Homo sapiens: one gene and its partners. The protein of the gene in region 1 interacts with the protein of each later gene in a pairwise test. Each region holds a gene or a part of one and is shown in the gene's direction. Other genes may lie near its edges.

What was found.
Region 2: the proteins of CAPN2 (region 1) and ZDHHC17 interact in a two-hybrid assay, tested with the Homo sapiens proteins (one large-scale study listed by BioGRID and IntAct).
Region 3: the proteins of CAPN2 (region 1) and PLP1 interact in binary tests that used the Homo sapiens proteins (3 or more experiments, as listed by UniProt).

What each region holds. Positions count from the first base shown.
Region 1 is NC_000001.11:223,746,909-223,750,562, forward strand, and holds part of CAPN2 (calpain-2 catalytic subunit), read left to right. Parts: intron 1-88; coding exon 89-257; intron 258-2,130; coding exon 2,131-2,214; intron 2,215-3,654. UniProt on the Homo sapiens protein: Calcium-regulated non-lysosomal thiol-protease which catalyzes limited proteolysis of substrates involved in cytoskeletal remodeling and signal transduction. Proteolytically cleaves MYOC at 'Arg-226'.
Region 2 is NC_000012.12:76,812,461-76,816,114, forward strand, and holds part of ZDHHC17 (palmitoyltransferase ZDHHC17), read left to right. Parts: intron 1-2,685; coding exon 2,686-2,750; intron 2,751-3,396; coding exon 3,397-3,559; intron 3,560-3,654. UniProt on the Homo sapiens protein: Palmitoyltransferase that catalyzes the addition of palmitate onto various protein substrates and is involved in a variety of cellular processes.
Region 3 is NC_000023.11:103,779,739-103,783,392, forward strand, and holds part of PLP1 (myelin proteolipid protein), read left to right. Parts: intron 1-3,654.

The sequences.
Region 1 (3,654 bases):
ATCTAGACGGTACTAGGGGGTGGCTGTTTGAGAGATTATAGCATCAGTAGTGTCAAGGGTAGCGGCAGCGTCTAATCCCCTCTTGTAGGATCAACGGATGCTATGAAGCGCTATCAGGGGGTGCCACCACTGAGGGCTTCGAAGACTTCACCGGAGGCATTGCTGAGTGGTATGAGTTGAAGAAGCCCCCTCCCAACCTGTTCAAGATCATCCAGAAAGCTCTGCAAAAAGGCTCTCTCCTTGGCTGCTCCATCGACGTAAGTCCAGGCTGCCTTCCCTAGCCTCACCCCATCTGCTCTTGCTGAAGGGAGGCTCCCACAGTGCCCAAGGGAACCCACTGCTCCTGTGTACAACGTAATGCAGCCCTCGTCCACGTAGGGGCCAAAGGAAAACCTCCCTCCACCCTCTGAAGGTCCGCTGAAAATCAACTGGCAAAAGGAAGACTAATACAAGAAATGGCATACAAATGTATGAATGTGGACAGGGGAGAATCACAAGAGATTTCCCTACCACGCATTGGGATACAGAGGGTTATATTCCCTTCCTCTTAGGGGAAGGGAGATGGGGAGGTGCGGATGATTTTAGGGATGTCGTAAATGATTTTTAGGGGAATTCATTGGGCTTAAAGAACATAAATGGTCTGGGATAAAGTCTGTTGGGCCTGCAGAGCAGACAGTGGTTTGTGACAAGTCTGTCTAGCCATGTTGACAGACTTGTCTTTCTTCCTGCAATATGAGTTCAGTTCATAATAACTCATGGAAAGGACCAGACGTCATTGTTTTCATCTTTGGCAGGTCCAGACTTTAGGCAGGTGAGGGAACTTCAGAGAATAGCTTCCTCCTGTGCTTTGGGGGAGAGTGGATCGAGAGACAGAAGGAAAGGGGAGGTCAGAGAGATCTTGAGGCTTCTTCAGTTTAGCATTTCAAAGTGCCATCTCTTAGAGGTATTGGTTTCTGAGCACCCCAGTGTCTACCATTATTGCTCATCACCTGGAAGCCAAGGGTTGCTAGGCAAAAGTCAAGCTGTCTGGGGTGTAATGGATGGGGTGATGGTGCCTCCAGCCCTTCTGTCTTCAGTCCACTTCCCACTCTTAGCCTGCTCTGAATCACCCCCACCCCTCTGACCACAGGTTCCCTGGGAGCCCCTGCCACCTGCTGCCCCTGCCACCTTCCCCTCCATCTGCAGTGCTGTGCAGCCTTCCCCTGCACTCTTGCAGAGCTAATAGGCCCGTGGGAGACTTCGGAAGGAAGAGGAGGAAAGATTTCCTCATAATAGCCTTGCTGGCAACGCTCACCAGGGGATGGGAGGTGGGCACTGTGCCCAGGAGCCTTGGAGCAAAGGCTGTGCCCAACCTCTGAGCCCTGTCCCATCCAGGTTCTGGTCTCTGCGGGGGACAGAGATAAGAAGCCCTGGCTTTTGGAGCCAAAATCTAGGTCAGACTCCCTAGGCAGGAATTCTCAAAGTTTATCAGCAGAACACGTTGAGGCAGAAGACCCTTTCTGCTCCAGCCCTTCTTCCCAGGCTCAACCTTCATCAGAATAGATAGGGGAAAGGAGAGGCTGTGAGGCGTTCTTAAAACAGAAGCAAATTCTGACTCAGACCGGAATAAACAACCGTCCTAGTATAAACCCTACAGCTGGGCTGGGCCAGACCACGGAGCATGGGCTGGTGGTGGGGCGAGGGTGTGCTCAGTGTCCCTGGGCCACTCAAGGCTGTCTGGGTATCAGCCCTGCGCCATCGAGGACCCCCTCCGGCCCTCTCTCGGCCGTGCGCCCTTTCCCTGCGCCATCGAGGACCCCCTCCAGCCCTCTCTCGGCCGTGCGCCCTTTCCCGCCCTTCCCAGCCTGCAGAAATCCGTGGATGCGCTATTCACACGGGAATGCCTGTGCTCGTTCCGCGAGAGGGTTGCATTCCGCCTTTTCTCTGGTATTCTCGGCGTTCAAGCATTTGAACGGGGTAGGAAAGGTTCTCCAAGTGCAAGAAAGCGCAGCCCTGAGCCTCCCACCCCAGGCCTCGGCCGCTGCGCTAGTGCGTCCGGCGGTCCCGCCCGGCAGTAGGACAGAGGGAGCGAGGGAGTCCGGGAGGAAGGGAGAGCGGGTGCGGCCAGTCTGACGGTTGCTGTGTTTGCAGATCACCAGCGCCGCGGACTCGGAGGCCATCACGTTTCAGAAGCTGGTGAAGGGGCACGCGTACTCGGTCACCGGAGCCGAGGAGGTAACGGCCGGCGCGGATGTGCAGGGGTCCTGCTGTCCTGACACGATGGCCACAGGCACAGTTTGTGGTGATGCCCAGGGGCCCGCGCGGCCCCACGGTGGTCCAGTTTACACTCGGGCCCCGCACTCCTGAAGTTCCGCGCGGGAGGAGAAGGGCGTCCCTTTCGCAGCTCGGGCGCCGGGTGCGCCGCGCTGCCACCTGGTGGCCGCAGTGGCCGGCGCCAGGGGCCCTGGTTTTACTTGTTTTAGATGTTACCCTGTTTTACAGTTACAACCTTACTATTTTGATAAGCTAAAAATAATAAAACAATGCATCTTCATAGTGTTTTATACTCTATAAGGTGCTTTCTCTTTTGATCTCGTAAAAGTATTCGTGCCCATGTTCAAATCTGACTGCCTCTTACCAGCTGTGTGGCCTGGGCCAATTACTGGAACTCTCTGTCCCTTAGTTTCCTCATTTAAAAAATGGAAATAATGATAATATCCATTGGAAGGTCGTGGCGATTCAATCAAGTTAATATATGTAAAGTGCTCAGAGGTGACTCACACATCATATATAAGGAGGTAGCTGTCCTTGCTGTTGTGATCACTGTTGTTATTGAAAATATTATGGGCTGACATGGTGGCTCACACCTGAAATCCCAACACTTTGGGAGACCGAGGTGGGAGGATCACTCGAGCCTAGGAGTTCAAGACCAGCCTGGGCAACGTAGCAAGAACCTGTCTCTACAAAAAAAAGTTAGCTGGGCATGGTGGCATGCCACTGTCGTCCCAGCTACTCGGGAGGCTGAGGTGGGAGGATCACTTGAGCCCAGGAGGTCGAGGCTGTAGTGAGCCATGATCATGCCATTGCACCCCAGCCTCAGCGACAAAGTAAGACCATGTCTCAAAAAAAAAATTATCAAGCAACTCAAGTTCACTGTTAATTACAGAACCCAGTCTAGACCGCAGATCTTCTGCATGTCCAGTGTTCTTTTTTTAACCTTGATTTTTTTAACTACCCCCTCACACACACACGTCTTTTTATTTGAAAATTTTCACGTATACAGAAAAGTTGAAAGACTAACATAATAACTATCCAATTGCCACTCCCCTAGATTCACCGATTGCTAACATTTGCCATGTCTGCTTTATCTATGTGTGCACTTTTTTTGAGCCATATGAAAGTAAGTTGCAGACGTTATGACACTTCCCTCCTCAATACTTCAGCATTTATTCCCTATGAATAAGGACATTCTGTTACATAATTCCTCTACTGTTGCCACACCTAAGAAAATAACATTAATTCAGTAGTGTCATCTATTATAAAGTCTATACTAACATTTTCCCAGTTGCCCAAAATGTCCTTTCTGGCGACCCACCCCAACCCCATCCAGGACTCAATCCAGATTCACTCACTGCATGTGCCTGTTATCACCAGTGATCTTTCAACAAATGGTAA
Region 2 (3,654 bases), on another chromosome or scaffold:
ATTAGTTCTGATTACATAGTTCCTAATTATAAGCAGTAATAAAATTAGCATATTTTTATTTCTTCTTCCCTTTCTCTTTTATCGACTGTAGTCAATAATATTGTTTTTCTTAATGTTAACTATGTTCTGATAAATTTTTACTACATTTTTATTACTTGATTTTTCAGCTTTAGATAGTTTTCTTTGATTCATGGCTACTATAGATGAGGCTCTCAGCATATTTTCATTTCAACCTTTTTCCATTTTCCCATTTTGTTGTTAATTATATCAATTTTACATTGTCAGGGTATATAACATTTCCATTCAGTTTTGTCATTCTATTCTTCACAATCGTTTTGTTTTAGTTATATTGTTAAATATATTTAGTGCTCACTACCAATTCTTTTGGATGATTTTCAGGAGAAAAAGGGGAAAATGCTAAGTTATGGAGCCCTGTTGATCATGGAATTCCCATAAGCTTTTGATCTGGGCTTGTTAATTCTTCCTAATAGAGAATACCCATACGTCCAGGCTGAACTTGGAAAAGAAGTACCAAGTTTTAAATCCCGACCCAAAGAGAGAAAAGGTTGAATTTCATTTTTCTTTTAGTACTCTAGAGATGTGCCATGATTTTACATTTTTTTATTTATTGATATTTTTAATACTATCATTTTTTAAAAAGGATATGAAAACACAACTAAGAAGAAGGAGAAACTTAAACATAAGAATTTACATGCTTGCTTTAATTAGACCTGAAATTTGGTTGAGGTCCTACGGAAATTAGGAGTAAAAGAAGTCACAATAGTTACTTCTCATATAAGAAATAAGGAAGTTTGTTGTTTCTTCAGAAAACATATTTTTTTTAAGCCACAGGATTATTTTAAAAAATGTACTTGCATATTGGAAATGTTGAGTGAGGTTGCAGAAGATATTCCTGACAACACTATTAAAGTAAATCCAGAAATGGATTTGTAATGGATAAGGCATAACATTCTATGACAGTATGCATGGTGAGTGACTAAGTTAATGACATCCAAGGAAATGCTTTACTTATCTAATGTAGTGGTTCTCAGATTTTTTTTCTTCAATATGCTTAGATAATGTTCACATTTGAGACATATTCCTATTGCTAACAGTGGCTCACAGAGAACTGATGCATAGAGATAGTGTTTTACAGTGTGCTTACTGTAACTCTCTGCTCTCTCCACTGATTGGTGAATTAGGTAACACAACTTGGATTAGAACTGCTTGCTTAATGTAATTCAGGAATGGGAGATGGGGTAGAGAAGAAGAAGAAACTTAATATTTATTGAATATCCATTATGTTCTCAGCTGTTGACTAGATGCTTTGCACACATTATTTAATCTTCACAGAAGTCTTATGAAGTTATTTGTATTTCACATTTTTTAATGAGGAAGCTAAGACTAAGAATTAAAGTAATTTAGCCTACAATCTCATAGCAATTATATGATGGAGCTAGGAAGTCAAAACCATGTCTTATTCTAAAGCCAAGCCTAGAAAAGTAGATAGATAAGCATGTCTTTTCCTTTAATAAATGGTTTTCGATCATCTACTCTGCTGGGCACTGAGAATACGAAGATGGATTTGAGATGATTTTTATTTTCAAAGTACTCCAGGTTAATGAGACACACATTTCAGGCATAGAGGATAATCAGTTCAGAATGGAGTGGGTTAGGAAAGGTAGTTTCAGAGCATTGAAACTGATAAGAGTCCCTGATACATCAGAAAGTCTTGCGCAAGGAGAATTAGATAACTAGGAAAGAGTTTCGGTTTAATAGGTGGAAGTTTTAGTTATAATTTGCTAAAAACTAAGTAGTAGTGGGGGAAAGATGGTGCCAGGGAAAGCAAAAAATTGAGTAGAAGAGGAAAAATAGTGGTTTATTACATGGTTTGGCTGGGAATAGTATTTATGCATATTTATAATAATACATATCAAGTATTAAATGTTTATATGAACCAGAATTACAATAGATCTCTTGAGAGGAAAGAATAGGAAAGGCGTGCATTTGTGATGTAGCAGAGAGGAAAGAGAAAAATTCAGATTTTTTGTACCAAGGAATTTCAGAATAATGCCTGAAACTGAAAAATCAAGAAGTAGCAATTCAAACATCTTATTTAAAGATATGGAGGTAAATATAAAAATAATGAGCCAAAAAATGGTGAAAATGGTGGGAAGTAAGGCAGGGGGATTGCTTTAGTGTGTTGCTTTTTCCACACAAACTGCAGAATCATTTAACTCTAAAAATGTACATGTGTAACAGTAAAAACTGAGTATATTAAAATGTCAGTTCTTTTTATTTTTTGTTTTGAAATGCCTAGGAATAAACAGTTTTGTCGTTCTCTCTTATGCATTAGTATAAACAAGTTTTTCAGAAACTTAATCACTTAACCTATCCTTTGTGGTTGAAAGGTCAGAATAGGTTAAGAATTTTAAATGTGAAACATTGAAAGGCTGATTAAAACATCTTAAAAGGGAATAATGTAAAAGCATGATATATGTTCACTAGAGTATATAGTGACAAGAGTTTCATTTTAAAGTTAAGAAAGAAAGTTTCATACATTATCCTTGATTGAGTAGTATTATATTCGCTTCTCCTTTTATATATAGATTAGATTTTTCCAAGCAAATTTGGTTAGGAACTTATAATTTAACTGTCTGACTTTTTTTCTTTTTACTTTATCAGGATGTAGATATGATGGATCAGAATGGAATGACGCCTTTAATGTGGGCAGCATATAGAACACATAGGTATGTAATGACTATAAAAAACTTATTTAGGCCATTTCAGCATAATACAATATGAAGTAAGAGAGAGGAAAAAGCAGTTAATACTATACTCACTAATATTTACAGTTTTTATTATGACTATAGTATATATAAATTACCATTTTGGATGTTCTGGTATCTCTGTGCTGTCTCTCCCTCACTGATTAGAGCTTCCTTAATCTGTTTCTCTTTTAACAATATCTAAGAAAAGAAGTTATCTTTTTTTAAAAATTAATTAATTTTTTCATGTGATTTACATATTGACAAATTTATTAATTAGTAAGTTGTCTTAGATCACTTTTGGAAGACTCCAAATTTAAATTTTAAAAAGTGTTATTCTTGAATTGTATAAGTATTAATGCCATTTCTAGGTCAAAAATAGAAAATATCAGGACCAAGTTGCTTATCCCCTGAAACTATTAATATATTATTTTATATGGTGTCATACATACTTAATACTTCATATTAGAATATTGTCTCATTATTGATTTTAAAGTTGTTGAGTAGGTTAGAAGTGTTCCAAAATGGAATGCTACTGTAAGCATAATCAGTTTAGTATTTGTAATGATTTCTATAATTGAAATTAGGGTTGTTGTTGTTGTTTGTTTTTTTTTTTTTTCCTTTTCAGTGTGGATCCAACTAGATTGCTTTTAACATTCAATGTTTCAGTTAACCTTGGTGACAAGTATCACAAAAACACTGCTCTGCATTGGGCAGTGCTAGCAGGGAATACCACAGTCATTAGCCTTCTTCTGGAAGCTGGAGCTAATGTTGATGCCCAGAATATCAAGGTAAAAATATTCTATATTGATAATACTGTATGAAATGTGGCTAATATGTGAATTCTGTAATAAAACAAGTTTTTCATAGACTGTCAGAGTTGAAA
Region 3 (3,654 bases), on another chromosome or scaffold:
TCAACCCTGGGAGGTGGGTGGGAGGGGAAATATAGTCTCCAAACCCATTAAGGTAGAACTCCAGCCAGTAACATCACTTTCCCCCATTGCTTTTGTCTATCGTCCTGAAGCCTTGAAAGCCATCCCCTGGGTACAGGTCTTTGTCTTGAAAGAAAGCAACAGTAGAAATGCCTTCCCTGCCCACAGCACTTCAGGTCTAAAGAAGACCAAGTGAGGACAGTGACATGATCAGGAAGGGTCACAGCAGCCATGGTAGGTGAATGGAGCAGCTTTTCCTTCCTTTCCTGCTTTCAGAGCCTACTCAGTGCCAAACTTACATCAAAAGCTCAGCAAGTACTGATTGATTAATCCCTCTTGCCTACGGCAAAATGGCCCTGAGGGCTATCTCTCAGCTCTGCACTGGCCTCTGAGCTGTCTGCCAGGCAGGGCTCTAGAAAAGAGTCCCAAGGAAGAGAATAAGGTTCCCCAAATCAGCTTCACACTGCAACAAGGAGAGAGGAGGAAATGGTGGGAGACTGACCTGAGGAACAAGGTATGGCTACTATTGTCTCTAGTACCAGTTACTTCCCTTTCATCTTCCCATTCGTGGGCAAGGTGGAGACAATGTGCCAAGGATAAGTTTTAACAATCAAAGTCCTACCTCAGCTTCCCAATGCTTGCACATAAATTGGAATGTGTACATCATTCATTCTGTCTCTCTCTGTGTGTGTGTGTGTGTGTGTGTGTGTGTGCGCGTCTGAAGAGGAGTGGGGAGTATAGGAAACAAGATAGTCCAGATGCTGTTGCCGTGGTAATACTAAATCGTGTCCAAAGAGGAGGCTGAGATTCCTTTTTAGTTAACCTTGTCCACATGATTTGACTATCCAGCAGGCTTGGATTCCCAGGCCCCAGAGACTTCGGGACTGTTTTCCAGCACTTGAATGTGGTATATAAGTGCTGATATCAAAAGGGATATGTAGGAAAGACAAGATTATAGGCAGGGCATTGTCTGACCAGGACGAGGCCCGAAGCAAAAGTCTTTGTTTGTCTCTGGCACCTCTTGATAATTGTTGTTTTACTCCTAGAACCCACCCACTGATCCCCATCCATCCCTAGTACCAGTCACGGCTGCTCTAGCATTTCGGCCTTGTCAACTACTGCAGGCCCTGATCAAGGAGGCCTCTGTTCATGGGGTAAGGTTAAGGGGTGGGTTCTGGGAGGAGGGTAAGACTGTAGTGCAGATTCGAGACCTAGGGAGGTGGGGCCAGTTTCTCACTCAATGAGCCTGCCTGTTGTTTAGCTCTATTGTATAGGGTTCTTCTATCTCTCCCTTTGTCAGCTGGATTCAAGGGACAGGCTGGGAATTGTGCAGGGTACAATTGGTCTCTTTCTACCATTCCTTTCGATGAAAGCCCTTCCTCTCCTTCCTTTGATGAGTTCCCAGATTCACACTGAATTTCCATCATGGAGCTGGTCCTTGAGGCGGGCCCAGGGCATGGGAAAGGAGGGAGGGAGGGTTGGGAGCTCTTGGTGCCTGCTTAAAGAGACAGCATCAGGATCAACACAGTCCCTTGATGAACCTGGATCTGTGTAAGTCACATTGGTTCTGTTGATCTCTGTCAGACCGCTGTGAAGAGCGCTGGTGAGAAGGGCTTAAAGTTGGAGTATCAACTATCACAGATTGATTAGACTTGTTTTGGGAGTTTGTATACAAATGTAGCCAACCATGACATGATCTTTTCCCTTTGCTTACATTTTGCCCACACAACTTCGTTATATCCATTTTAACACTTGCTTATAGGTAGCTTTAGATTTTGATTCACAGACATATGTTTGTTCACCCCAACAGGATTTCAAGTTTTCTAAAGAAAGGGACTGGCCTTTTAATTCCCTTCTGTTTCTCCTAATGTCTATGTCACTGCTAGTGTGCTTAATTCTTGTACTGAATTCACATAAACAGAAATGAAAGAAAAACACTGGAGGGGGTCATTATTTTTCTCTATGACCTTTCATCAAAGTCAGGTGGCTTAATCTGACTGAGTTGCATTGAGAAATGTTATTACTATATGGTTCTTTTATGCCAACTCTCTCATCTCGCAGTCTGTACTTAGACTGGAAATGTGAGAATGTCTCTTGAGAGAGCCAAGGAACTTCTCCCCTAGAATCTCTTCCAGCCTTCTTGAATCAAACTCACACCCTTTCAACCAGGAGGGGTTCTGAAATGGAGAGCTTTTGGCTTTAGGCTATTGTTCACACATACCCAAGGGACATTTCTTGGACTGTGAAAAATCAAAGGGAGCCCAATGGATCTTTTCTCAGAATGCTTTGATTGTCAACTACTTTGATGAAAAAATAATTTCTTGCAGGCTCTGAGTTTTTCTCAGTTAGAATCTAAAATCTGATTCTTGCTTGGACAGACTGACTGAGATTCTTCACTTCTGCTGAACTTAAATGCCCCCAAAGCAAACATTTCATCTAGGTTGTGAAGAGATGAACATCTGATGCTTATGCTGATATTACTGAATTGTTTATAGCTTAATAGTGATAGATTTATCTAAAGTCATTTATTTCAGACTTTACATTAGAAACTCATTAAAGCCTACTTCTTTCTTGTCCCTTGCTTTGAGCTGTAGTGGAGCAGAAAAGGGGATGCTAAGTTATTCAAGTTCTAAGAAAATAGAGGAAAAATGGATGTAAAAAGAAAGGCTATGATCTGGTGACTCAGAATTGCTCCTAAGGCTTAGCCATTTATCACCCAGTAAGAACACAATCCATGACACTCTCAGGTTATTTGGATGATGATTGAGGGATCAGATACACTCAAGAGGATGTTTCCCTCTCATCTTTGCAACCCTAGAGGTGGCATCACCTAACGCTTAAAGTGGAGTTCTCTTTTGGCTAGCAAGAGTTCAAGTTCCTCCATCCCTGACCATACCTGCACAAGCACTTAGCCCTTCCCAGATGAAAATGCTGGGATGAGTGAGTAGGCCCAAGATGGTCACTTGCTAGGGTGGATGGCTCTTCTTACCCTCGGCTAAACAAACAGTCCTGCCATTGTTCCCTGAGTCTGACCCCCTCCCCACCCCCCGGCTGCAGGCCCCTGTGGAATACCAATCAGGCTCCTGAGATCTCAGGAAAGAACAAGGCTTCTTTGTCCGGGGGAGCTATGGAGGGCTCTGTCCAAGCCCTGACCCTGTGCTGGGGAGAAAGGGAACAGTGGGGTCACTGACCTTCTTCTCCCCCCATCCCCAGGCTTCAGAGACTTTCTTTACTAGAAAAGTCTAAGAGTTTGGGGGTGGGGAGGAGTTGGATAGGCAGAGAAGGAAAATGGCAGTACTGTTTACTTCTAAGCTCCTTTTCTTGACTTATAGGCTGAATCTAGTATCTTAACCTGTTGAGAAAGAGGAAGATCAATTTCTGGAATGTTTTCTGAGAACAACAATCGATTTCAGTTGTTGTGTTTTTCTCTGTGGTATACATGTGTGTATGTGCACATTTGTACACATGCATGCATGTGCGTGTGCACACACACAGACACACCCATGGGCCAGCTCTGAAAAGACACTCTTCCCAAGCACGTTTGCAAAGTTCATGCTGAGTAAACTCAGCCTCCACTCACAGCAGCACAGCTACAGATTGCTTCTTATAGAGGCCAAGTTTCCTGGCAGCAATGCT